7 linked regions of the Homo sapiens genome follow. The protein of the gene in region 1 purifies or fractionates together with the protein of each later gene. This does not show direct contact. Each region holds a gene or a part of one and is shown in the gene's direction. Other genes may lie near its edges.

What was found.
Region 2: the proteins of LPAR1 (region 1) and COLEC12 purify together in Homo sapiens (affinity purification with mass spectrometry; 3 studies listed by BioGRID and IntAct, with this or other methods). This does not show direct contact.
Region 3: the proteins of LPAR1 (region 1) and ZDHHC18 purify together in Homo sapiens (affinity purification with mass spectrometry; 3 studies listed by BioGRID and IntAct, with this or other methods). This does not show direct contact.
Region 4: the proteins of LPAR1 (region 1) and PIGO purify together in Homo sapiens (affinity purification with mass spectrometry; 3 studies listed by BioGRID and IntAct, with this or other methods). This does not show direct contact.
Region 5: the proteins of LPAR1 (region 1) and CKAP4 purify together in Homo sapiens (affinity purification with mass spectrometry; 3 studies listed by BioGRID and IntAct, with this or other methods). This does not show direct contact.
Region 6: the proteins of LPAR1 (region 1) and LEMD3 purify together in Homo sapiens (affinity purification with mass spectrometry; 4 studies listed by BioGRID and IntAct, with this or other methods). This does not show direct contact.
Region 7: the proteins of LPAR1 (region 1) and TMEM87A purify together in Homo sapiens (affinity purification with mass spectrometry; 4 studies listed by BioGRID and IntAct, with this or other methods). This does not show direct contact.

What each region holds. Positions count from the first base shown.
Region 1 is NC_000009.12:110,937,471-110,940,970, reverse strand, and holds part of LPAR1 (lysophosphatidic acid receptor 1), read left to right. Parts: exon of another isoform or gene 1-1,059; intron 1,060-3,500.
Region 2 is NC_000018.10:343,702-347,201, reverse strand, and holds part of COLEC12 (collectin-12), read left to right. Parts: coding exon 1-907; intron 908-3,500. UniProt on the Homo sapiens protein: Scavenger receptor that displays several functions associated with host defense. Promotes binding and phagocytosis of Gram-positive, Gram-negative bacteria and yeast.
Region 3 is NC_000001.11:26,850,688-26,854,187, forward strand, and holds part of ZDHHC18 (palmitoyltransferase ZDHHC18), read left to right. Parts: intron 1-441; coding exon 442-544; intron 545-2,065; coding exon 2,066-2,178; intron 2,179-3,038; coding exon 3,039-3,156; 3' UTR 3,157-3,500. UniProt on the Homo sapiens protein: Palmitoyltransferase that catalyzes the addition of palmitate onto various protein substrates, such as CGAS, HRAS and LCK. Acts as a negative regulator of the cGAS-STING pathway be mediating palmitoylation and inactivation of CGAS.
Region 4 is NC_000009.12:35,093,792-35,097,847, reverse strand, and holds the start of PIGO (GPI ethanolamine phosphate transferase 3, catalytic subunit), read left to right. Parts: upstream 1-1,256; 5' UTR 1,257-1,693; intron 1,694-1,871; exon of another isoform or gene 1,872-1,969; intron 1,970-2,281; 5' UTR 2,282-2,282; coding exon 2,283-2,793; intron 2,794-3,488; coding exon 3,489-3,632; intron 3,633-3,823; coding exon 3,824-3,947; intron 3,948-4,056.
Region 5 is NC_000012.12:106,245,221-106,249,494, reverse strand, and holds the start of CKAP4 (cytoskeleton-associated protein 4), read left to right. Parts: upstream 1-1,474; 5' UTR 1,475-1,643; coding exon 1,644-2,126; intron 2,127-4,274. UniProt on the Homo sapiens protein: Mediates the anchoring of the endoplasmic reticulum to microtubules. High-affinity epithelial cell surface receptor for the FZD8-related low molecular weight sialoglycopeptide APF/antiproliferative factor.
Region 6 is NC_000012.12:65,245,719-65,248,855, forward strand, and holds the end of LEMD3 (inner nuclear membrane protein Man1), read left to right. Parts: coding exon 1-56; intron 57-142; coding exon 143-221; intron 222-443; coding exon 444-607; 3' UTR 608-2,637; downstream 2,638-3,137.
Region 7 is NC_000015.10:42,235,434-42,238,933, reverse strand, and holds part of TMEM87A (transmembrane protein 87A isoform 1 precursor), read left to right. Parts: intron 1-1,318; coding exon 1,319-1,502; intron 1,503-2,514; coding exon 2,515-2,614; intron 2,615-3,500. UniProt on the Homo sapiens protein: Potential monoatomic ion channel gated by mechanical force, implicated in normal touch sensitivity through the generation of mechanically activated currents.

The sequences.
Region 1 (3,500 bases):
AGGTAGTATATCAAGGTTTTATATAGATTTACTGAACAAAACAGATTGGAATTAATGATATTCTCTGACAGTCATCTTCATGAAAACTTCCTTATTTTCTATTAATTTTCTATTTGTAGTAGTGGAGGTTAATTCATATTTCAAGGTGAAGAGCAAGATTTGTAGACTCAAATACCTTCTGCTTTTAAATAAGCATTGTTTTTCTTGGATGAAAAATTCATAGTAGTGATCAAGAAGAATATATTCACTTATGTGTGTAGAAGGTAGTTAAAGAGCACCTACTATGTTCTACGCTCTGTGCTGGCTCCATGAAAAGGACAGATACAGACATTTCCTTTGGAGCTGAGAGTAGAGTGAGAGTTTTTTAAAATAATTACCCAATGGAATTATACATTCTCCATAGACTATATTCAGGTTAACGTTTGATCACATTAAAAAATCTTTTTTGAAAACCTTTTATCATTTCATCTTTCCCTATGGAAATTGAAAAAAAACATTTTATCACCTCCTCTTTCCCCACAGAAATTCAATGGAAAGTTCCTATAATTCTCTGTGCTCCAATTTATATAGCATTTTTGGGTGAATGTAACATGGGATTATGTGGCTCCTCTGAAACTCTGGGAATTACCTTAATTTTAGCCACTGGAAGGAGACAGGGTCCTGCTGATCATTATATAAAGTAGTATTCAGATTGATGCATAGGTCTCGTCTGTTTTGGTTAGGATGACTGCATCATGGACATCATTTTCAGCTATACTCATTGTTGACCCTCTTGTAGACCTGTGAGAATAGCAACTAAGCCTTGGGATCACTGACACACCTAAAACCCTGCCTAACTAACTGAAACACTGAGGACCCCATCACCTCAGATATGAGATTGTCTTATTGCATCCAATGAAGATTAGTAGAACTACAAAAATGGTTTCTCTGTATGTTTATTAACAGGACCTTAAGCACACCTGTGCCACAAGGCCACATTTTCCATGATGTGGATAAAACACATCTTTGTTTACCATGGATGCTATTTTTGTATGAAATAAAACATGAGACATTAAATAACATGAGACTTTTTTCCTGTATTGACTCAAATATTTATTTGCTGATGACCTAAATGTTGGTTGACATTTTTTATATGCATGAACTTTTTCTATTACGACAAGTGCTACTCATAGTTTGCAGAATTGCCAGCAGCAAATGACTACTGAACTTGGACTATTAACCTGCCAAGTTCTTGTTTTAATTTTGACCTTTGTATAATATCTTGTGTATTCCAGTGTGCAATGTACTGAATGATTCACATACTTTTGTGCCTCTTTGGGTTGTTTTTCAGGTTGAAATAATCATTTTGAGGCTATAGGAGCTAGTGTTTCAGTGTACATTTGCCCTAAATGCCACTTTCCCATGCCCAACTACTACCACTGCACAACCACTAACTTTAAAATAACAGAAATAATATTTAAACTAGTATACTCCACAAAGATCGAATGCAGTTGACATCTCTGGAATAAAGAGCATGATTTTTAAAGCTGTGAGATGGAAGAACTTTCAGAACATGGAAAACCCCGTCACGGTGATAGGTGAAGGTATTTGGTGAAGAAAGATGGGAATAAGATTGTAATATAGGAAACAGAAATTAAATGGACCGTAGCCTTTTTGAGAAAAGTAGCAAGAATAAGAGAATGGGCAGGATGTGGGCAGGGAGTGGTTGGAAAGTTTAGAATGGGGAAGTCACAATCCTAACAGATGTTTTTCAAGGCGTGGTGCCTAATGCCATTCCTACAGTATGCTCCCCTATTTGAATTGTAAGTGTCCATCCTTAGATAGGCACGGTTACATGGGAGACATGGGTTGGTCTTGTCATAATGTAGGCAAACCCCAAAATTGGGGCTCAGCCTGGGGGAGTTCTTGGCTCTGCCCAGGAAAGAATTCAAGAGTGAACCAACAGTGAAAGAAAGCAAGTTTGTTAGCGTAACAGTGTACAGCCAAGTGACCACTCCAAAGGCAGAGCAGGGCTATCTCATAGGCAGGGTAGCACAGAACAGCACTAATGGATTGCTGGCTAGTTATATTTATACCCATTCTTTTTTCTTTTTCTTTGAGACAGGGTCTTGCTGTATCACCCAGGCTGGAGTGCAGTGGCATGATCTTGGCTCATTGTAGCCTGGACCTCCTAGGCTCCAGCAGTTCTCCCACTTCAGCCTCTCAATTAGCTGAGATTACAGGTGCATACCACCACACCCAGCTACCCAGATTTTTTTTTTTCTTTTTTCTTTTTTTTTTGTAGAGATGGGGTTTTGTCATGTTGCCCAGGCTGGTCTTGAGCTTCTGGGTTCCAGTGATCTTCCTGCCTTGGCCTCCCAAAATGCTGGGATTGCAGGCATAAGCCACCATGCCTGGGCCCCCACTCTTAATGCTAAATATAATTAAACAGGTTATTCATGAACTTCCTGGAAAAGGGGTGGGGAGTTCCTGAAACCATGTAAGGTTAACTTCCAAGTCATTGCCATTGCATTTGTAAACCGTCATGGTGCTGGTAGGAATGTCTAATGCAAATGTATTATGATTCCTGGTCCTTGCTGGTTTGGATTGGTTTCTTTGCTACATCCTGTTTTGATCAGCAGCGTTGTGAAAACAAGTCCTGCTGGTCTCCCACTTCAGTAGGAACAAGAATTCTGGTCTACTCGAAGTTCTTCTCTTTGTAAATTAGTCCATTGATAATCTGGTTATTTTACTTTAGTTTGTGTACATTTGGTTTTTAGTATTTGTCTTCACTGCCAGATTGCCAGGTTTGTGAGGGCAGGCAGGATTGTAATGATTGTTTGTTTTCTCCACGTTGCCACATTGCCTGTCACGGCTATCTGGTACAAAGTAGGTAGTCAATAAATGCTGAGGGAATGCATGTGATGACAAAACCAAGTTTCTCTGCCTTCAAAACTGAAGACCAGAGCCGTAGTGAATTCACTACAGTAAATGCCACTTTATTCAGCTATGTGGGAGCCAAACCTAGCGACACCTTTATGTTCTATGCCTTCTAAAATACAACAGCCTGGAAAACTCCTGGCTACAATGGGTGCTCAGTAAATAATATGTTTGTTTTACTTCCATTTATTCTGGGAATGATTACTCAGTTTCCATTTTCACTTCATCAAAATGATCCCTGGGTTTTAGACCTATTCAGTCTTCATGATCAAAAGAAGAATTTGTTGGTCAGCAACTGACTTGTTATGAGTCAAGTTATATTAAAATAAAGTCATCTTTGAGATTAATAATGGGCAATACCAATGGCTGGTTTTTAAGCATGATCTTGTATTAAGCTGCTTTTGAGTGAGTACTGGATCTTAATAATTATTTTTAGTTGTGAAATACTTATTTGGCATAAATCATGTGCTACCTTAGAAATTAGTATTTGTAAATTACAACCCTATGGCGTATAGGTACTGTTATTGATTTGTTATCCTTATTTTCCAGTTGATAAAAACTGAGGTAAGGAGAGGTTAGGT
Region 2 (3,500 bases), on another chromosome or scaffold:
GCGAGCGGGGATGCTCTGGTGGACAGGCAGAGTCAATTGAAAGAAACTTTGGAGAATAACTCTTTCCTCATCACCACTGTAAACAAAACCCTCCAGGCGTATAATGGCTATGTCACGAATCTGCAGCAAGATACCAGCGTGCTCCAGGGCAATCTGCAGAACCAAATGTATTCTCATAATGTGGTCATCATGAACCTCAACAACCTGAACCTGACCCAGGTGCAGCAGAGGAACCTCATCACGAATCTGCAGCGGTCTGTGGATGACACAAGCCAGGCTATCCAGCGAATCAAGAACGACTTTCAAAATCTGCAGCAGGTTTTTCTTCAAGCCAAGAAGGACACGGATTGGCTGAAGGAGAAAGTGCAGAGCTTGCAGACGCTGGCTGCCAACAACTCTGCGTTGGCCAAAGCCAACAACGACACCCTGGAGGATATGAACAGCCAGCTCAACTCATTCACAGGTCAGATGGAGAACATCACCACTATCTCTCAAGCCAACGAGCAGAACCTGAAAGACCTGCAGGACTTACACAAAGATGCAGAGAATAGAACAGCCATCAAGTTCAACCAACTGGAGGAACGCTTCCAGCTCTTTGAGACGGATATTGTGAACATCATTAGCAATATCAGTTACACAGCCCACCACCTGCGGACGCTGACCAGCAATCTAAATGAAGTCAGGACCACTTGCACAGATACCCTTACCAAACACACAGATGATCTGACCTCCTTGAATAATACCCTGGCCAACATCCGTTTGGATTCTGTTTCTCTCAGGATGCAACAAGATTTGATGAGGTCGAGGTTAGACACTGAAGTAGCCAACTTATCAGTGATTATGGAAGAAATGAAGCTAGTAGACTCCAAGCATGGTCAGCTCATCAAGAATTTTACAATACTACAAGGTAAGTCAAAATTCTGAATTTGTATTTGTATTAGTTGTTTATTGCTGCATAACAAGTTACTCTAAAACTTGGCAATTTAAAACAATAAATATTCATCATCTCATAGTTTTTGTGGACCAGGAATTCAAGAGCAGCTTAGCTAGATGGTCCTGACTCACTGTTTTTCATGAGGTTGTGTCAAGATCTCAGCCAGAGCTGCAGTCATCTGAAGGCTTGACTGTGGCTGGAGGGTCTGCTACTTAAGTGGCCTGTTCACATAGCTCTTGGCAGGAGGCCTCAGTTCCTTGCTGTGTGAAATTGCTTGAGTGTCCTCACAATGTGGCAGCTGGCTGCTGCCAGAACAAGGAATTCAAGAGAGAGAACAAGAAGGAAGATACCATGACATACTAGCCTCAGAAGCCACACACCATCACATCCACTTCATTCTGTTTCTTAGAAATAAGTCACTAAGTCCAGCCCACACTCAATGCAAGTGGAATTAAGTTCCACATCTTGAAAAGAAGTGTAACTAAGAATCTGTGGACAGTACTTAAAGGGACTCCATTAATTATTTGTTGAGTGAAAGGTTGGTTAATTTGAATTTTCTTGGTCCTTGAGCTATTTCAATGCAATATAAATCAAGCTCCTCTGAAAGCAAGATCAAGTCTTTTGGGTCACAAAGCTACCATTAAGGGAGTTACATGTCATGAGTAGATGAATGGTTGGCCATCACAGTAACACAGAGGTCACAGTAAGGTCACAGAGGAAGGAAACGATGTGTCTTGCTTATAAAATCTGAGTTTTGGTAGGTGTGCTGGCTCATGCCTGTAATCTTAACACTTTCGGAGGCTGAGGTGGGAGGATCGCTTGAGACCAGGAGTTTGAGACCAGCCTGGGCAACATAGCAATATCCCATCTCCTAAATAAACAAATAAATGAATGAATACATACGTATAATCTGAATTTTACTGTTATCCAGATCATCCATATAAATTAAAAGTCCTTGACTCAGACTAAGTCCACAGTTGAAGAATTGTAGCATCATATATTAACAGTATTTTCCAGTCACAAACTATTTTCACAGGTTTTAAGTTGAAAGTACTGGTGGAAGATGCTGTGCTCAGCAGTCTGGGGTATACAAATGAAACCAACGGTCCTCACCCTTAGGGAGTTTAACATAAAGAGAATTTCAGGGCATCAGAAGATGGGCTGTAAGCAAACATTCAAGGGGAAGGGATTACACAAGGGCCTGAGTCACTAGGGGCCACCTTGGGGTATGTCCCCCACACTGGTCTAATAATCAAGGGTAAAGAGTGGTAGTTAATAAGCCCCTGTGAGGCTGAAGGCAGATCCGGATAGCAGATGGCAGGACTCTGTTCAATAGCTTTGTCAGTGACTAGCATGGATGACCTGCTAAAGCAATGCTTGTGTGACTTGAAACTGTATATGCCAGCCAGTGGCTGATAGACTCATAATCCACAATGATCTAGAGAGGCCAGGATAGTATCAAGATGTCAATCAAATGAAGTAGATAGGAATACATGTAAAATCCTGCTCATAAATGGATGAGACAAAACAGATAAATGTTGATGGGAAGGCATGGCTGGAAGGAAGTGTGCATGAAGCATGGGGATTTTAGTTGACTGGAAGCAGTGAAATATGTCTTCCAGGGAAGGGAATGTGTTCCTTGACTGTGGACTGTGTTAAGAAAAAGGGAAGTAACATCTGACTCTGTTCAGTATGCCAAGACCACCTCTGGAAGATAATGTTTACTTTGAGTAGCCCCTTTCAAAAGAGACATTCCCAGACCAGCATGCTCAGAAAAGCAACATCAGAATGATAGGGGCTAGAAACCACGTACTGTGAGGAAGGGTTGAGGACCTGGGAGCTTTCACCCCTAGGAGAGCCTGTTCAGTGGAGAACAAGACAGCCATCTGCACTTATTTAAAGTTGCTCTGTCTGAGGAATGCCACTGGGTGAAACAAGACTAGTGGGTGTTCACTAAGGGAAGATCAATTTTGGTTTTACAGAATGTTCCTCATAAAATGGGTATTAGCTGAAAATATAATGGCTCCCCTACTCAATCAGGATGCCCCAGCTCTGGAGGGGCTGGACAGTTGCAGGTCAGGGATATGGTAGGTGTGAGTCTTACTCTGAAAAAGGGGTAGCCCTTCAAATGATTTAAAAAAAAATTCTTAGACAATCTTATCATGGTATTCTGGATATTTTCTAGTTATTAATTTTATAGTTTTATTATTTCATTAATTTAATTGTTACCTTGTCTTCAGTTATTTAGTTTATAGACAGCGTGGCTTATCAGCCAAGTAAGGACATGAAAAGCTAGTATTTGAAGGTGAGACCCTGAGTGTTTAAGTTAATGTTTCTATTGTTAGGATTCTTTTATCAGCTAGTATTGAAAGTGAATGTACTGAGCACTTTTCACCAACGTCCCAATGAATCCTGACAGCAGCTCTATGAAGCAGCTACTTACAATGTCATCGCCAGTTTATAGACGAGGAAATTAAGGCTTAGAAGGTTTGAGTAACTTGCTGAGGTTTACACAAGTAAAAAGTAGCTCAGTGGAATCCGAGCCCAGGCCGTCTGGTGCCAAACC
Region 3 (3,500 bases), on another chromosome or scaffold:
AGAAGGGAACAGCGTACAGCTCACATGTGTCCTCCAGAATCCAACATGCCAGCTCTTCTGTTCACACCCAGGCAAGAGCTGATCCTAAATGGGGCATTGTGGGGCCGGGGGTTCCTCGTCTTCAGGGGCCTGGAAAAGAGTATGTCCCTTAAGATGCCAAGCTCCCTGGACCGTGTCGTGCCCAAGGCTCTTTGTGATTGGAACCCTCAGTTTTCTCTGCCGTCCATCACCCTGACCTTGTCTGGCTCTTGAGTGGGGTCCTGACCCTTCCGAGGGGCCCAGGAGGTGATCCTGCTAAGAAGTGGGGACTGGGCCACAGGAAGGTTCCAAAACTTCTCAGCTCTCTGGGGAAACAGCTCCATGGAAGGATAGGTGAGACAGGCCAGGTGTGGCTGGGAGGCTCCCCACCCTCCACCCATTGAAGTCCTTAACTGCCCTCACCGTGCTGGAGTTGGTGATCTGCTTCTTCTCCATCTGGTCCATTCTGGGCCTCTCAGGGTTTCACACGTACCTCGTCGCCTCCAACCTGACTACTAATGAAGACGTGAGTAAACCTGGAGCCACCCCTCATTCTAGGGCAGCGCCCTCAGGAGGAGGCAGGGCTGAGGGAGCCTGGGGCAGCCAAGCACAGTCCTGACTCACGGACTGCTGGGATAATGCCTTTTAAGCAGCCAGATGCCTCCCAGTCATCTCAGCTTGGCCCTGGTGGGTCCGATGCAGGCTTCTGACACCTCCACATGCTTCATTCTCTCAGTGCAGGCTCCCAAGGTCCCAGGTTGCTTTTCTCCACAGCCCTGCAGGAGGCAGTACTCACACCACAGCACGCATGATGTTTGGCTGGCACATGACCGCTTACAGAATTCTTTCAGTTCCCGTCATTTCTTTGGGTCCTTTTGCCAAGCCTGAGGCAGAAAGGACAGGGATGTTTTTTCCCCATTCGATGACTGAGAGACATGTCCCATGTCTGAGAGGTCACACAGCTGGGAGGGGACAGAGCCAAGGTTGGTGCCCAGTCACAGGTATGCGCTCCCTCTTCCACACTGCCCCTGTCAGCAGCAAAGCCGTGACTATTCTCAAGGTGGCACTGGCCTGTCCTGGCTGCCCCTCTCAATATGCACGCCTGGGGGAGACAGGGCACAGGCCAGTGGGCTCCATTGACCTTCCCTGCCTGCCACCCTGCAGACTGCCATCAACAAGCATGTTTGATGTGCCCAGTCCTAGGCCAGACCTGACTTCTCCTCCCCATCCTCCAAACACTAAAAAGTAAATGAGAGCATCTGTTTCAGGGCCCACCATCTGATACTTACCAGCAACCCATCCTCCAACAGAAAATACATTCCCAGACCTCATCCTCTCATTCAGGGAAACAAAACTTCACACATGACAGGGCGTTGTGTGCCTGGTGATCAGTGAGAACAGAAATGCCATCAGCCAGTATCTCCCGCAGTAGCTTCTTGGGTGCCAGTTCTGCAGCACATTACCAGAGGTTAAAGAGAAAGGAGTGTGTGGCCAAATAAGTGTAGAAAACTCTAGGTTAAAGTCAAGGTATTCTTTATTGCTAAACTCTCCAGTGCCTTCCATAGCTGACTTCACAGAGCTAGAGAATCTGGCAAGAATTAATCTAATGCCCTAGCAATGTCATCTGAGAATTAGTATTATTTTCCCTGTTTTCCAAATGAGGACTCAGGCTCAGCGAAGTGGTGATCTGTCCAGGTAACGTAGCCAGTGAGTAGCAGGGCCGGGGCTCACAGGCAGGTCAGCCCTCACCCTGTGCCCCTGCGCTACCCTCCTTCAGAAGTGGCTGGCCGGAGAAGGGAGGAGTCATCCGAAACGTTTCCTCTGGATGCTTCTCTTGGGCTCTGCTCTGTCATCTCCTCTTTGGGGCCTCCTGATCTCTGCCAGGGGTCCCCCACATTCTCATTGAATGGCCCACATGAAAGACATGTCGCCTTCTGTAACCAGAATTGGTTTCGGAATTGTCCAGTTGTCCCCAGCCTCTAGACCTGCCTCCTAGAAAAGTGAAGCAAAAGGAGGTACTTGACCTAGGCCTCCTTCCTGCTTGCAGATCAAAGGCTCGTGGTCCAGCAAGAGGGGCGGTGAGGCCTCTGTCAACCCCTACAGCCATAAAAGTATTATCACCAACTGCTGTGCTGTGCTCTGTGGCCCCCTACCTCCCAGGTAAGTGAGCGGGGTGCGGAAGAGGGGTAACAGGGCCATGCCTGGCCAGTGATCAAAGTGTTCCTGGATATCAGCCGACCTCCCCCTACACCCTAGATGCCCTCCGTCCACTACCCCCTGGAGGGCATTTGTCATGTGACGGAATTCCATGGAGAATTGTTATTTAATCACGTGCTCATTGTAGAAAAAAAAAATTAAGTACAAAACGTAAAACAGAGGAGCATTGGATATGACATGTAATTCTACTCCCCGGGGGTAGCCACCATGACTGTTTCAGCCATGTTTGAATGACACTGCCCTTCCGGTTGCCCACTGCCTGGACTGGGTGGCGACTCCATCCTCTCCTGGCAGTAGGAACCCTGGGGACTCAGCCCTGCTGGGTCACTCCCTGTTCATCCTGACACCAGGGGGCACCAGAGTTCCAGAACGGGGATTACATTGCTGTGGGTACTGCTAAGACAAGTCATTCCCACACAGTCATGTCACCTACCCCACCCAGTATCCCTGTCACCCAGCCTGCCTAGAGGGGAAGGGAACATAGGAATTTCATAGTCATCAAATACCTATTCATCCTTGCTTTCCTCCCTCACCTGCAGCCTGGCTTCTTGGCAGCCAGACAGGTGGGCCAGTTGGAATTAATAGTGAATAAATTCTGTGGCCAAAAGCCAGGTGGCCAGAGGGCAGAGAGAGGCCTGCCAGAGGTAAGAGTCTTGGGCCCCCAGATGGGCAGCAGCTCTCCTTTCCTCAGCCTTTCTCAGCCTGGGCCTTTCCTTGGCTGAGATAGACTCTGCCGTCCAACCCCTGGCCTAGAGCCTCAGTGTTGGGCAGAGCCCTCATGTGTCTCCCTTGTGTTTTGGAAGCCTAATTGACCGGAGGGGATTTGTGCAGTCCGACACCGTGTTGCCCTCACCCATCAGAAGCGATGAGCCAGCCTGCAGAGCCAAGCCTGATGCCAGCATGGTAGGAGGCCACCCCTGACCACGGCTCAGTACTTGCCACCTGCTGGCCTGTCTGACCCTCCGCACTCACCTGCCGGGACCCTCCCTATTCCATCCAAGGGAAGCAGAACTGCCAAAGACTCAAGTCTTTTCATATTTATTTCCCATCCTGCGTGGCTTTCCCTGAACTGTTCCGTGGCTGTGCCCTCTGCTCCCCAAACCCAGGTTCCCACAGCCTTGGGCCCTAGGTACCCCAGCTGATCAGTGCCAGGAGAGACCAGAGCCTCTGGAGGCTACCCAGGGGACCACACCAAGTCCTTGCCTGTGCCGGGCGAGCCCTGTGTGAGTGAGGCTGTGAACTGAGCGTGAGGCCTCCCAGGTGGG
Region 4 (4,056 bases), about 76 Mb from region 1:
AATATGAAGGTGATGGAGATCCATTTCGGCATCGGGAACTGAAGCTGACAGAGGAGATGGCAAATGCAAAGGTCCTGAGGCAGAACTGCTGTGGATGGAACAGAGTTAGGGAAGCAAAGAAGTGGCAGCTAGATGAATCAGAAGGGGAAGAGGCAGATAGTGTGCAGGGCCATGTAGAGCCAATGCAAGAACTTTTACTCTGAGATGAGAAACCAGTGGACGGGTTTTGTTTCTTTTTGAGACAGAGTCTTGCTCTGTTGCCTAGGCTGGAGTGCAGTAGCACGATCTCAGCTCACTGTAGCCTCTGCCTCCTGGCTTCAAGCAATTGTCCAGTCTCAGCCTCCTCAGTAGCTGGGACTACAGGTACACATCGCCACGCCTGGCTAAATTTTGTAATTTTTAGTAGAGTTGGGGTTTCAGCATGTTGGCCAGGCTGGTCTCCAATTCCTGACTTCAACTGATTCTCCAGCCTCAGCCTCCCAAAGTGCTGGGCTTACAGGTGTGAGTCATCGTGCCTGGCATTTTTTTTTTTTTTTTTGAGAGGGAGTCTTGCTCTGTTGCCCAGGCTGGAGTGCAGTGGTGCAATCTCGGCTCACTGCAACCTCTGCCTCCTGGGTTCGAGTGATTCTCCTGCCTCAGCCTCCCAGGTATCTGGGATCACAGGCGCCCGCCACCACTCCCGGGTAACTTTTGTATTTTCAGTAGAGACGGCGTTTCGTCATATTGGCCGGGCTGGTCTTGAACTCCTGACCTTAGGTGATCCACCTGCCTTGACCTCCCAAAGTGCTGGGATTACAGGTGTGAACCACTGGGCCCAGCCTCCCCTCCTCCACTCCGAAGGATTATTTGCTTAATTATTCAGTCGTAAGATTTAGTTACAGGCTTTGAAAGGAGGAGTAATGAAATCTCAGTTGGACTCAGCTAAGCAAAAAAGGGAAAATAAGTATTATCTCCATTTTACAGATGAGGTAATGCCTAATGATGACAATATGTGCGGCCAAGCTAGGATTCAAGTCAAGTTTGACTCCAGCAGCCGTGCTCTTAGTCGTAACCATGAATGGACAGTGGTTCCCTGAACTCTTCCTCCAGCTTGGTCCCCTGTCCCCAATTTTCAATTACTAAATATCCCATCAAACTGGGGCCAGCCCCACGCTCCTGGCCAAACTTCCACCGAGGTGCCGGCAGATGGCGATGGAGCCACCGACGGGCCACTCTGTCTGGCGCACGCATCTCTGTGCTGCCAGGTCGCAGGCGCCGCCGCCGCCGCACTTCCGGGTGCCATTGCAGGTGAGCCAGGGTCTCCCGAGAACCTCACCCCCCGGTATTCCCCTCACCCTGAAGTAAGGGAGTCTCCCTCTTCCCCTCAGCTCCTAACCAAGGTGCTCAGTACCGCGGCTAGGGTGCCCAGCGGGAGGCTGGGTAGTTACCGGAGGAGGCAGAGCCGGTCGCACGCCTGGGTCCCAGCGGAGGCCCAGTCGACTCTCGACCCGGGCCCCAGCCTCCTTGCGTGGCGAAGGTCGTGCCTCAGGTCTCCTGGCGAACCTGGCCGCCCGGAAGCGGAGAGTGACTCCTCCCCTTCGTCCCCTCGGTGCCCGCCAGGCGGCGCCGTCGGCTGGGCCCGGATTCCCCTGCGGCTTCGATCCCTTTCCACTGGGTATTGAGATTGGCGAGGGGAGAGGCGCAGAAACGGCGTGTAAGAGAGCCTGACTACCAATTGGAATAAGTTTCCCTCCTGACTGTTCACATGTACAGGCAGCATTAGCATTTCCTGCCTGTACATGTGAACGTTCCTATGCTCTACCCCTCGAAGATCCTGATTCAGTAGATCTGGGGTGGGACCTCATGAAACGGCGTCTCCCTCTGTTGTCCAGACTCTAGTGCAGTGGTTCAATCTCGGCTCACTGCAACCTCCGCCTCCCCGATTCAAGCGATTCTCCTGCGTCAGCCTCCCCAGTAGCTGAGACTACAGGTGCCCGCCACCCATTTTTGTATTTTTAGTAGGGACGGGGTTTCGCCATTTTGGCCAGGCTGGTCTCGAACTCCTCACCTCAGGTGATCCGCCCGCCTCGGCCTCCCAAAGTGCTGGGATTACAGGCGTGAGCCACCATGCCCAGCCTGGAAATAGGAGGAGAGTAATATTGCGAGGGGTTGGCTGTGAAATGGTTTATCTCCAGGAAGGTTTCCGGGAGGAAGTGATTCTAGCTGGGCTTGTATTCAGGGACCAGAATATCCACTGGTTCTTTGCCCCACAGTAATGAATTTACTTCCCCACCCCTATCAGGATGCAGAAAGCCTCAGTGTTGCTCTTCCTGGCCTGGGTCTGCTTCCTCTTCTACGCTGGCATTGCCCTCTTCACCAGTGGCTTCCTGCTCACCCGTTTGGAGCTCACCAACCATAGCAGCTGCCAAGAGCCCCCAGGCCCTGGGTCCCTGCCATGGGGGAGCCAAGGGAAACCTGGGGCCTGCTGGATGGCTTCCCGATTTTCGCGGGTTGTGTTGGTGCTGATAGATGCTCTGCGATTTGACTTCGCCCAGCCCCAGCATTCACACGTGCCTAGAGAGCCTCCTGTCTCCCTACCCTTCCTGGGCAAACTAAGCTCCTTGCAGAGGATCCTGGAGATTCAGCCCCACCATGCCCGGCTCTACCGATCTCAGGTTGACCCTCCTACCACCACCATGCAGCGCCTCAAGGCCCTCACCACTGGCTCACTGCCTACCTTTATTGATGCTGGTAGTAACTTCGCCAGCCACGCCATAGTGGAAGACAATCTCATTAAGCAGCTCACCAGTGCAGGTCAGTGTGGGCCACTTTGAAGGCCAGAAGTACCTTGGCAAATTTCTTCAAAATTTGAAGTCAGGGAGTCAGACCTTTGGGTGCCCAGATGCACACTTGATTATGGTGTAGGGGGACAGAGGAGAAGAAAGAGGCCAGGGCCCTGCTGGTAGGGAGCTCAGTTTGGGGGACAGAGGAGAAGAAAGAGGCCAGGGCCCTGCTGGTAGGGAGCTCAGTTTGGGAGACAGAGGAGAAGGGATCTGGGCTTTGTTCCTATGAAGCTTCTAATCTGAATGGAGTGTAAGTTTTATTCTTGGAGACCTCTCAGTAAAAGGGAGAAGGGAAGAAGAGAAGATGTGGATCTTGGCTTGCAAGTGTGGAGAAGAAAGCAGAGAAATACAGGCCCTGTTCATTCACTGACTGGGAAGAAGCAGGATACACCCAGGAAAAACAACTCAGTAGAGATACCCAGAGACAGAACTAGGAGAGCATTTTGTAGGAAGGATAAGTGTGAGGTCTGGGTGGAGTACGGTTATCAGGGAAAGCTTCCTGGTGGAAAATGTTAGGCCCTGAAGGATAAGGATTGCTGTATGGAATTGCTGTACTTTAGGTTGCATGGTTGGGACTTCTGATGGGTCTTTAAAGGGCCTCTTTTCCTCTTTTCTCCTAACCCTGACGTTTGCTCAGGCTCTGACTTCTCTTTCATGTCCCTGCAGGAAGGCGTGTAGTCTTCATGGGAGATGATACCTGGAAAGACCTTTTCCCTGGTGCTTTCTCCAAAGCTTTCTTCTTCCCATCCTTCAATGTCAGAGACCTAGACACAGTGGACAATGGCATCCTGGAACACCTCTACCCCACCAGTGAGCATGGGGCCAGAGCACTTAGTTCTAAGACTGGGAGCTGGGGAGAACTGCTTTAGTCCACAAATTCTGAGCCACCTATGGGTGTAACAGCCTGGGCTTGTATCCCTGGACATAGAGGAGTGTCAAAGCCTGGCTGGGGTTGAGGAGTGGGTCTTAGTCTTCTGTGCTCAGTGTTCTCCCCTTCACAGTGGACAGTGGTGAATGGGACGTGCTGATTGCTCACTTCCTGGGTGTGGACCACTGTGGCCACAAGCATGGCCCTCACCACCCTGAAATGGCCAAGAAACTTAGCCAGATGGACCAGGTGATCCAGTGAGTGTGGGGTATTGGCTGGGGGAGTGGGTTTGTGTCTGAGAATCTCGAAGAAGCTCTTATCTTAGAGCTTCTTTCCTGGCTGAATTCTGTCTTCTCTAGGCCTTCT
Region 5 (4,274 bases), on another chromosome or scaffold:
TAGGGAAAGCATCATCAAAGAGGTGGCATTTGAACCCTATAGGCTTTAAGGGCAGGGCATGGTTTTGTCTTTGTTTACAGAACTGGGAGGAGGTTACAGACAGAAGAAACAGCATTCCTACTACACACAGTGCCAGGTGCACACAGTGCCAGGCACACATCACTCACCAGAAACTGGGGAAAGCAGTGGAATTGAGTGAGTTCTGTCCCTGCCCCGGCACCAATTAGACTGAGTGAGTGGGCAAGTTGCTTAACTTCCCTGGGCCCCCGTTTCCTTCCCATTCTGAAGTGATTAAGCTGCACAGACTTCAGAAAGAAGCAGACTGAGTGAGGTTCGAATGATGACTATATGTGACCTTGAGCCAATCCGAAGCCGGCTCGCTCAGTCTCAATTTCCTTCCTATAAAATGGGTAAAATAATTTCTACCTCACAGGGCTTTTGTGAGATTTCGAGAACATATGTGAGTCGCTAACCACACAGCCTGGCAATACCAGATTTCCTTTTACAAAAGTAGGGGTGACAACGCTGATCTGCCTCTTTCTGTGTGGCTGCTGCTGCCTCCGCAGCACCCATCCCAGAGGCTGTCAGGAGTAGGGGCCGTGGACAAACTTCATGACCCCGAAAGAGAAAACAGAGCTGAAGGGGCTTCGGGGGGAAAAAGTAAAGAGCTGGCCACAGCAGGCTAACTTGGCTAACGGGGACACTTGGTGAATGCGTCCCCTTGAACAGACTTACCACAGTCGAGAATCTTTGCTAACTCGCATCAACCATGCCTCCCAAGCTGGCTGGATTTTGGACAGCCTTTTTTGTCTCCGCCTTCAAACCCAAGGCAAAGGACAAGGCCCAACCCCATGGCGGGCTGGGAGAGTGAAAGCAGGGGGAGTCCCCCAATTCCCAGCGGAAAGGAAGGGCGATCTGTTCCCACCCGCTGACTCCCACTCCCGGGGCCAGGGCTCCTTGGGCGCCCCCCTTCATTTCTCTCCTCTCCGCACAGGTCGGGAAGGGAGGGGGTCGCGCTTGGCCCGCGGCGCAGGTTCACCCCGGCTTTCGTCCCTCCGACCCCGCCTGGCCGCCCATCCCCGACCCCCGTGGACCCTGCTCGGCCGCCCCGGCTGGGGTCGATCTGGCCCTCCGCCCCCAGCCTGCGTGGAACCCGCCGGGCCGCCAGCCCCACCTCGGCCGCGTCCCCTCCCCTCCGCTCCGCTCTTCTCCCCTCCCCTCGCGGCCACCTCGGTGCCCACCCCGGCCTCCGCAGACCCCGCCGGGACCCCGCCCCGCGCCCAGCCACCCCCGCGCCGGCTTCCCGGCCCCCGTAGACCCCGCCCGGCCCTCCCTCTCCGGGGTCGTGGCGGCGGGGAGGAGGGGCCGCCGGGCCGGCGTGCGTGGCAAGCTCTCCCGGCTCGGCTCGCTCGGCCTCCCTTACCGGGAGGCGGGGTCGGCGCCGCGGCGGCGGAGGCAGGCCCCCTCCTCCCGCCTCCTCGGCCCGGCCTCCTTCCCCGGCCGCGCGTCCTCTCGCCGCTCCGACGCCAGCAGCGCCCGCGTGCCGCTCGCCCAGTCCCGGGGGAGCCCCTGCAAGTTTCCCGGGCCGCGCGCCGCGCTCGCTCGCCTCCCAGCCCGCGGCCCGAGCCGCCGCCGCGCCCGCCATGCCCTCGGCCAAACAAAGGGGCTCCAAGGGCGGCCACGGCGCCGCGAGCCCCTCGGAGAAGGGTGCCCACCCGTCGGGCGGCGCGGATGACGTGGCGAAGAAGCCGCCGCCGGCGCCGCAGCAGCCGCCGCCGCCGCCCGCGCCGCACCCGCAGCAGCACCCGCAGCAGCACCCGCAGAACCAGGCGCACGGCAAGGGCGGCCACCGCGGCGGCGGCGGCGGCGGCGGCAAGTCCTCCTCCTCCTCCTCCGCCTCCGCCGCCGCTGCCGCCGCCGCCGCCTCGTCCTCGGCGTCCTGCTCGCGCAGGCTCGGCAGGGCGCTCAACTTTCTCTTCTACCTCGCCCTGGTGGCGGCGGCCGCTTTCTCGGGCTGGTGCGTCCACCACGTCCTGGAGGAGGTCCAGCAGGTCCGGCGCAGCCACCAGGACTTCTCCCGGCAGAGGGAGGAGCTGGGCCAGGGCTTGCAGGGCGTCGAGCAGAAGGTGGGTACCCCCGGCCCCGCAACTGTCCCCATCGACTGCGGCCTCCGGACCCACGGCCGGGCTCCTTCGTGCTTCCCGACCGGCCCCTAGCGCTGCCTGCCCAGGCCCGGAGGCGGGAGCCGGCCGCTCCTCCTTGGCGGGCCCTGGCCTAGACATCCCACTCCACGCGGCCCCCTAGTTCCGAGGCAGTCCCCAGACCCCCTTTGTTAATGGCTGCGGAGGAATCGGCCCCGAGGGATGGGCCGCCGCGAGGATGCCCAGGCCCGCCTGGCAGGGTGGGCCAAGGGCCTGTCACAGGGCATTAGCGGTGACCTGTAAGGAAGCCGGCAGGCTCCGGGGAGCCCATTCTTTCTGCATTAGGAACCGCTGAATGGGCAGAGCTGTCTGAAAAGGAGGTTGGAAGGGAAGCCAGCGCATCCCTGGAAGCCTCAGGCAAGGCCCCACCTCAGCTCTGCCTGTGGGAGACATCCGAGCGGGGTTTTTAATAGACCCGGAGCTGGCATTCTTACTCATTTGCAGGTCCAAATGAAATACCATCTATCTTTAGGTCCCTTGTCCTGTATTGGACCAGCCTGCCCAGGTGGGCCTTTGACGTAGTCCTACTTCAGCTTTTTTGGGTTTTCTTTTGAGAGGGAGTCTGGCTCTGTCGCCCAGGCTGGAGTGCAGTGGTACGATCTCAGCTCACTGCAACCTCTGCCTCCCAGGTTCCAGCGATTCTCCTGCCTCAGCCTCCTGAGTAGCTGGGATTACAGACATGTGCCACCATACCCAGCTAATTTTTTATTAGTAGTAGAGACAAAGTTTCACCGTATTGGCCAGGCTGGTCTCGAACTTCTGACCTCAAGTGATCCGCCTGCCTCGGCCTCCCAAAGTGCTGGGATTACAGGCGTGAGCCACTGCGCCCGGCCCTACTTCCGCTTTAGGGGAAGAGGAGGGCCAAAAATACTAGATCATACTGGTGAATAATACTTCTAGCCACATTTATATGGTGTTTAGAATGCTTACTCACTCACATATTATCTAATTCTTATAACTACCCTGGGAGGGAGGACTAACAGTTTTGATTTCATTTCCCAGAGCAGAACATTGAGGTTTAGACAGAGGAATGAGTTGACAAAGTCCCCAGCTGGTGAGTGACAGACACACGAGAATGTCTAGGCCACTGCCCTGTTCGTCAAGGGTCCACAGGGGTCCATTTCAGGTATGGATGGACCCAACTCTCAAGGCGAAGGTGCTTAGCTTCCACCCTTCTGTGGTTTTTCCATACCAAGTACAGCCCCTTTGATCTTATTCGCCCTCCACTATGTCATTGCTCAATGAAAGTTGGTTGCAAGACTGAAACAAAAAATCCCGCCACTTCTGATCCCGGAGCCACTGCCTCCTTTTCCCAGCATGCTGTCTGTCCTGCCAAGTTGCTCTCTGCTTTTGTTGAGTGTGCAGGACCAGGAATTTCCTCTTAAGACTGGCAGAGCACGGCCGGGCGTGGTGGCTCACGCCTGTAATCCCGGCACTGTAGGAGGCCGAGGCGGGCGGATCACCTGAGGTCAGAAGTTTGAGAGCAGCCTGGCCAACATGGTGAAACCCTGTGTCTACTAAAAATACAAAAATTAGCGGGGTGTGGTGGCACATGCCTGTAGTCCCAGCTACTCAGGAGGTTGAGGCAGGAGAATTGCTTGAACCCGGGAGGTGGAGGTTGCAGTGAGCGGAAATCCTGCCAGTGCACCCCAGCCGGGGCAACAGAGTGAGACTCCGTCTCAAAAAAAAAAAAAAAAAAAAAAAAGACTGGCAGAGCAACTGGAATGAGTCAGCCTGCTAAACGCTGCAGGCCAAGGGAGGTGACTTTTCTAAGGGAATTAAGTAGGCAGTGCTGCTTTGCCTATCCTGAATGTCAAACCATTCTTAAAAAATAGACATACTGCTGGAGTATAATGACTAGCCTCTGTTTCTTCTCTTTCATCCTCCTACTTACTAGTCAATCATAATATTTATTAAAGTCTGACAGTTGCATGGCTCTGTGTAGGCTTTGTGGGAGGGTATGAAGGAGCAAAAGACACGAATCACTTGTGCAGCGCATAAGGAGGTGTCAGTTGAGGGTAACTCCTGTGAAAGTTCAGAAGAGGGAGGGTGTGGAATTTCGCCTGTATCCCG
Region 6 (3,137 bases), on another chromosome or scaffold:
AATGCAGTGATAATGATGGCATTGTTCACATTGCAGTAGACAAAAATTCACGTGAGGTAAAGTAACTTTTGGTATTGAATTTCATGTTTTGGATTTGTTGCTATTAAACTAAGACTATTTTCTTTCTTTTTTAATATCACAGGGTTGTGTATATGTTAAATGTCTGTCTCCAGAATATGCTGGAAAGGCTTTTAAAGCATTGCATGGCTCTTGGTTTGATGGTAAGAAATTTGAGTACTACAAACATTTTGAAAAGATAGTTATAGTTTAATTTTAAACTATACCAGATTTCAAATAAAAGAATTTAGGTTAGCATTTTTTTGAGTAATAATTTTAGATGACTTTATTTATGTTTTGTGCTCATATGTCTTTTACCACAGTTAATTTTCTGCAAATATTAAACAGTTTTACTGATCTAAAATATTATTTTTATCTTACAACAGGGAAATTGGTTACAGTAAAATATTTACGACTAGATAGATACCACCATCGCTTTCCCCAGGCTCTCACTTCCAACACTCCATTGAAGCCATCAAATAAACATATGAACTCCATGTCTCATCTTCGTCTTCGGACTGGCCTAACCAATTCTCAAGGAAGTTCCTGAAAAGATTTTCTTCCATTTCTAAGACTGTTATTTACAATAGGAAAATTCCTGTTTGGCTTTTTGTCTTCCTTTTTAAATGCTTTTTGTATGTAATATTTTTATTGATGAATACATCTCTGAACGTTCCAGAAGTCTTAAGGTTCCAAAGGGATTTAGCAGTGAGGCAGCAATGCTGAGTAGGTAGGATAATTATTTCATTCAGTTTTTGGAGCTCAGTTAAGCCAATACATTTAAAGTTTTGCATGAGGAACACTGACTTTATTAAGCATTTTCAGATGTGGTGGTTGTATTTTTGCCCCAAGAAGTGTTTGGATAACCACACAAAAGCATGATGAAAAGGCTTCTTGTAGTCCCATAATTTCTTGTGAACTAATGTTGTGAATTTTTGTATACAGTCACCTGCATAGTTCCTACAGGCTAATGTGGTAAAACTGTTGATTTCCCAATTTAACCTTAGGTTTCTGTTGCTTATAAGCGATTCATTTGCTACGGCTGGAATATGGGAAAATTAATTTGGGCTTAGTGGTTACAAATATGTGTAAGTGGATGTATATGTACTTAAACTGGCTTTGTATATATGTATAAATGCTGGTGGTGGTGAAAGTAGTCTTGTTTTATGAGGATGTCTGCATTAAAGCAGTAAAATAAGCTTTCCATTTTATTCATAATCTAATGTGTGTGTATATATGTATGTGTGTATGTGTGTGTATATATAGATGTATATATATACACACACAGAGATATATACATATGGCTGTACTTTTGCATAGATCAAACAGCCAAACACCTGGAAGTATTAGATACAAGTTTAAAATATCTTTTATAGGTTTTATATAAAAATGTCTGAGTATGATTTTGTGTGAAAGTTCTGATACCAGTTGTAATAGAGTCAAATTTATGTGAGCAATAAAGAAGAAATTGGCAGATATTGGAAAAATATTTTGTGAAAAGCTGTATTTATTATAAATACTAGGGCCATGACATAGTACCATTGGGGTTAAGTCATTTTCCCAATCTATTTATAATTTAATGATATGTTAGTGCCTCTGTTATATGTCAAGTTTAAAGCAGGGCACATTGTTGCAGCAAAATGTGTATTTGACAAATTATACTTGCAATTTTGGGTCATGAAAGTTTGCAATATAGTAAATGCACGATTGACTGTTGCTTTGTGCCTCAGTATTTAATTTGTTTCAGTAAACTTACTTTATTACTGTTTATGATTTCAGATAAAAATAGTTGCTGAGTAAATTTTACTTGTAATCTACAATTGGCTTTTTAAAAATAACCTGTTGATATATAATTGTCAGTCCAAATGAATATGTGAAACAGCTGGAATTGTACAAATTTTGGTTGTATTTAAAGCTCAGTTTCCTTTTTGTTTTATTGTATGCGTTGGGTTTGCAGCATGAACTTGCACAGATAATGCACGTTTTCTGGTTAAGTAAACATGATGCACACTATTCTGTAACAGAAAGCCCTATTGTGCCTTACCTGTGTGCTTTTGTGGGCACCTTGTTTATGAAGAATAAAAAATGATTTGTTATCTGAAGAGAATAAATTTTAAATTCTCAGTTTATGTCTCAGATGCTAACGTGTGAAAATATAAATATATATAATATATAAAGTAACCAGTCTTCCTGTATTTTATGTGCATCATAGTGATTTATCTGAGCTTAGTGACCCCCATCTTGTAACCTGTTGCAAGAGTGAATGTAAAAAATAGTTGTGGCATTTTAAAAGGTCGCCTTTGATGCAGATGCATCTTTTTCTTGCTTCTAAAACATATTTCATGTAAACATTGTACATTTATTATTGTAATATATACTATTATGCAGCTTATTTTACCTGAAACTGTTAAGCCGACCAAGATCCCTCCCTGCAAGACAGATGGGAATGTGTATAATAACTAGGTATTTGAGAAGTTCTGAAGTTTGATGTAATCTGTTACTTGTCCTGTTAAAAAAAGGAAAAAATTCTAATTAAAAATTTATTAGTTTTTTTTTATGTGTCTTGGCTTTTTAAAAACATTTTAAGTGCCCTGTGTCTGTATTTATTTTTTTACCAGTGAAAATAGGTGTCTTTAGTTTAAATGTTTGACAGCCTGAATATTTGTGCTTATAAAGATGAATGAAGACCATAAAGTTAATTTTAACTATCCTTCCCCTCAGCATTTTATTTTTCCTTATGAAAATGTCTTCATCCAACTTTCAAGTATTTGAACCAAAATGGGGCAAGAATGTCAATCAGCTACATCACAAAGCATTAGTTCTGCTAGATACTTTTTCACAGCAAGACTTTCTTAAAAAGGAAGCATTTCTTTTTCTTTTAACATTCTGACTTGAATTCTATTGCATTATAAACTATTAACAGTTCATAGGCTAGTTACTTTACATAGCATTGGTTTAGACTTTTTGATATGTTAAGTAAAAAGAAGACTAGTCAGTCATGTGGTACACTTATTGATTACTAACAAATGCCAAGTACTGTTATGTGTTAGGGATACAAAGATGAAAAACACATGACCGAA
Region 7 (3,500 bases), on another chromosome or scaffold:
TTCTTTGTTCATGATTATTCTCTTCTTCCTTTCCCTTTAATAGTTTTCCCGTTTTGTTGTGTTTCCTTGCCTCTAGATGTATCCTAATCATCATGCCATTTTTCTTCTTCAGTGTTGTCTTCATCTATATAATTTTAGATCGTGAGCTGAAATAGCTCCTTCTTTAAAAAAAAAAAAAAAAAAAGAGAGTCTCACTCTGTCTCCCAGGCTGGAGTGCAGTGGCATGATAATGGATAATGGCTCACTGCAGCCTTAAACTCCAGGCTGAAGCTACCCTCCACCTCAGCCTCCCAAGCAGCTAGGACAACAGGCGTGTGCCACTATGCCTGGCTAATTTTTATTTTATTTTATTATTTTTTATCTTGAAACGTAGTCTCACTCTGTCACCCAGACTGGAGTGGAATGGCACGATCTTGGCTCAATGCAACCTCCAGCTCCTGGGTTCAAGCGATTCTCCTGCCTCAGCCTCCTGAGTAGCTGGGACTACAGGTGCGCACCACCATGCCTGGCTAATTTTTGTATTTTTAGTAGAGACGGGGTTTCACCATGTTTTGGCCAGGCTGGTCTTGAACTCCTGACCTCAAGTAATCTGCCCATCTCTGCCTCCCAAATTGCTGGTATTACAGGCATGAGCCACCATGCCTGGCCTAATTTTTATTTTTTGTAGGGACAGAGTCTTGCTATGTTGCCTAGACTGGCCTTGAACTCATGACCTCAAGCAGTCCTCCTGCCTCGGCTTCCCAAAGCACTATTGCAGGTGTGAATTACCACGCCTGACCAGAAAAAGCTCTTTTACTATAGGAGAGCAGGCTGAGTGCTCTCTATATATACCATATATGTGTCTGTGTGTATAATAGAGAGCACCTTTTATATGGTATACATATGTGATACATACATACACACACACACACACACACACACACACACATATATATATATACATATGAGAGCATTCGCTCTTGAGGACAAGTTCATATGTAGTCTTCTCTGCTCAAGACAAGATAATGCTTTCATATTAGTTAATGTTAAGCTCCAAAGGAAGAATTATTTCTTAACTAGAAGGTAGAATATATTTTTGTAACTTGTTAAGACTGTATATTGATTCAGGACAGGCGCTGTGGCTTATGCCTGTAATCCCAACACTTTGGGAGGCAGAGATGGGAGGATTGCTTGAGTCCAGAAGTTCAAGACCATCCTAGGCAACATAGCAAATCCCCATCTCTTAAAAAAAAAAAAAAAGTATATATTGATTCTAAATCTACAGACTTGGCTCTTGGCCCTAATTCTCCTTTTTATCTTTTACCCAATTTGATAACAGTTTTTCATGGTGATGTGTATTGTATATGTCCTGTTTGGTGTTCTGTGGCTGGCATGGTCTGCCTGCTACTGGAGAGATCTCCTGAGAATTCAGTTTTGGATTGGTGCTGTCATCTTCCTGGGAATGCTTGAGAAAGCTGTCTTCTATGCGGAATTTCAGAATATCCGATACAAAGGAGAATCTGGTAAGTAACCAGAAAATCTTTGCCAGTTCGAGTGGTTGGAAGGTGAGATGTATGAAAATATTCCTAAGGTCAGCAGTCACTACATAGGCTTAACTTTTCAATTACTTAATTATTACAATATCTTAAGCAGAATCACTATGACTCTGACTTTTGTTTTTAATCTTATGAGTTCAGTGATGTAAGACTAATTTTACTGAAATATGCTCACAAAAGTCACAACAGTAGTGACCATTTTGGGAATGATTATTAACATCAAATCTCAATTTCTGTTGATTTCTAAGGCACCATTATACATCTAAGAAAAAAAGTAAAGCTGTCAATTTAATTGTAAAATGTCACTGATTGTAAGACACACCTTGATTTAAAAAACCTCAAAATGTGGTGGGAAAGTGCATCTAACTGATAAAATATAGTCATATCAAGAAAATAGGAGAGTGCTTATGGTTTAGTAAGGTGAACTGGTAATGACAGAAGTTGTTTTATACTGTAGTTTTTTGTGATTGCTTCAGTTTTTTCTTGTCAGACCATTTAATTTAGTCATAATTATTATTGTGAGATAAACTGATAAGATTTTCCCTGGTCTTTGAAAGGTCTTGAAAATAGTAGATCTGAAAAAAGTTAAGCTGTACATGCCAACAAGCGTGTACACGAGTGTGTTTTGTGCTTTTCTATGTGTAGCTGTATTTCACAGTTTTTAAAAATGGGGGAAATTGTCTCGATGCTACAAACTGTCCATATAGGGTGAGGTATTCTGTTAAAGTTTTAGTGAATTTGGGGCCAGGTCGGGGAGGGAGCTGAGTTGAGCGCACCCAGATTGCCATACATAGACATGAGTAAGATTGTGAGTGGCATCAGCTTGTATCCTGTAAAAACTGTGGAAGAGGTATTCTATTTTAGCAGGACTAATATCAATGCTTATTCTGAAGAGTGTAGAAAGCAGCAGTCTAGTATTGGCATCTGGCCTGTTGCCAAACCTAGATTATGGTGCCATTTCTTCCCTTCTTTTTCATAGTCCAGGGTGCTTTGATCCTTGCAGAGCTGCTTTCAGCAGTGAAACGCTCACTGGCTCGAACCCTGGTCATCATAGTCAGTCTGGGATATGGCATCGTCAAGTAAGTATTAACTTCCTGTATGGAAGAGCAAATTAAAATGCTGATTAAATTAAAACAGTATTGCATGTTCCCAATGTAGTAGTTCTGAAATAGTTGATAAAAGAAATAATTCTGAAACAAGAAAGGTATTTGAAATTTTGTAGCATTGTAAATGTTGGGAAAATGTGTTTCATTTTCCATACTTCCAAATATATTCCATACTTCCAAATATATTCCATACTTCCAAGTCCAAATGTATTCCATACTTCCAAATCCAAATGTATTCCATACTTCCGAATATATTTCCATACTTCCAAAATATTTTTTGCAAATTAGATTTTTTATGGGAAACGCATTCTTGCTGTAACTGTCTGAAAATATTTTTCTATCCAAAAAATTTTATTTTTATTGAGGAGTGTCTTCTATAGGCATTCTTTGAGGCATTGTTCTAGGCCCTGGGGATATGGCAAGTAAACAGAAGATTTTGAGCTTACATTTGTGGAGGGAGGGGACAAAGACAAAATTTAAGTGGGTAAAATATTTTAATATGTCAGTGGAAAGTGCAGTGGAGCAGGTAATGCAGGAGCTAGAGCTTGCAGTTGTACATAGGGTGATCAAGGAGGGCTTCACTTAATGACATTTAAGCAGAGACTTCAAGGAGGTGAGGGAGCTATATGTATACCCAAGGGAAGAGATGCTGAATTGAGATCAGATTCTATATATATTTTGAAGGTGGAACCAGTGGAATTTGCTGATGGATCAGATGTATGATAGGAAAGAGAAGAGGAATTAAGGATGATGCCAATTGTTTTGATCTGATAAAATGGCAGGATGGAATTGAAGATTTACTGAGTTCAGGAAGACCTTAGGTGAAATAAGTGTGGAGCAGGGGCAAGATTGGAGTTGA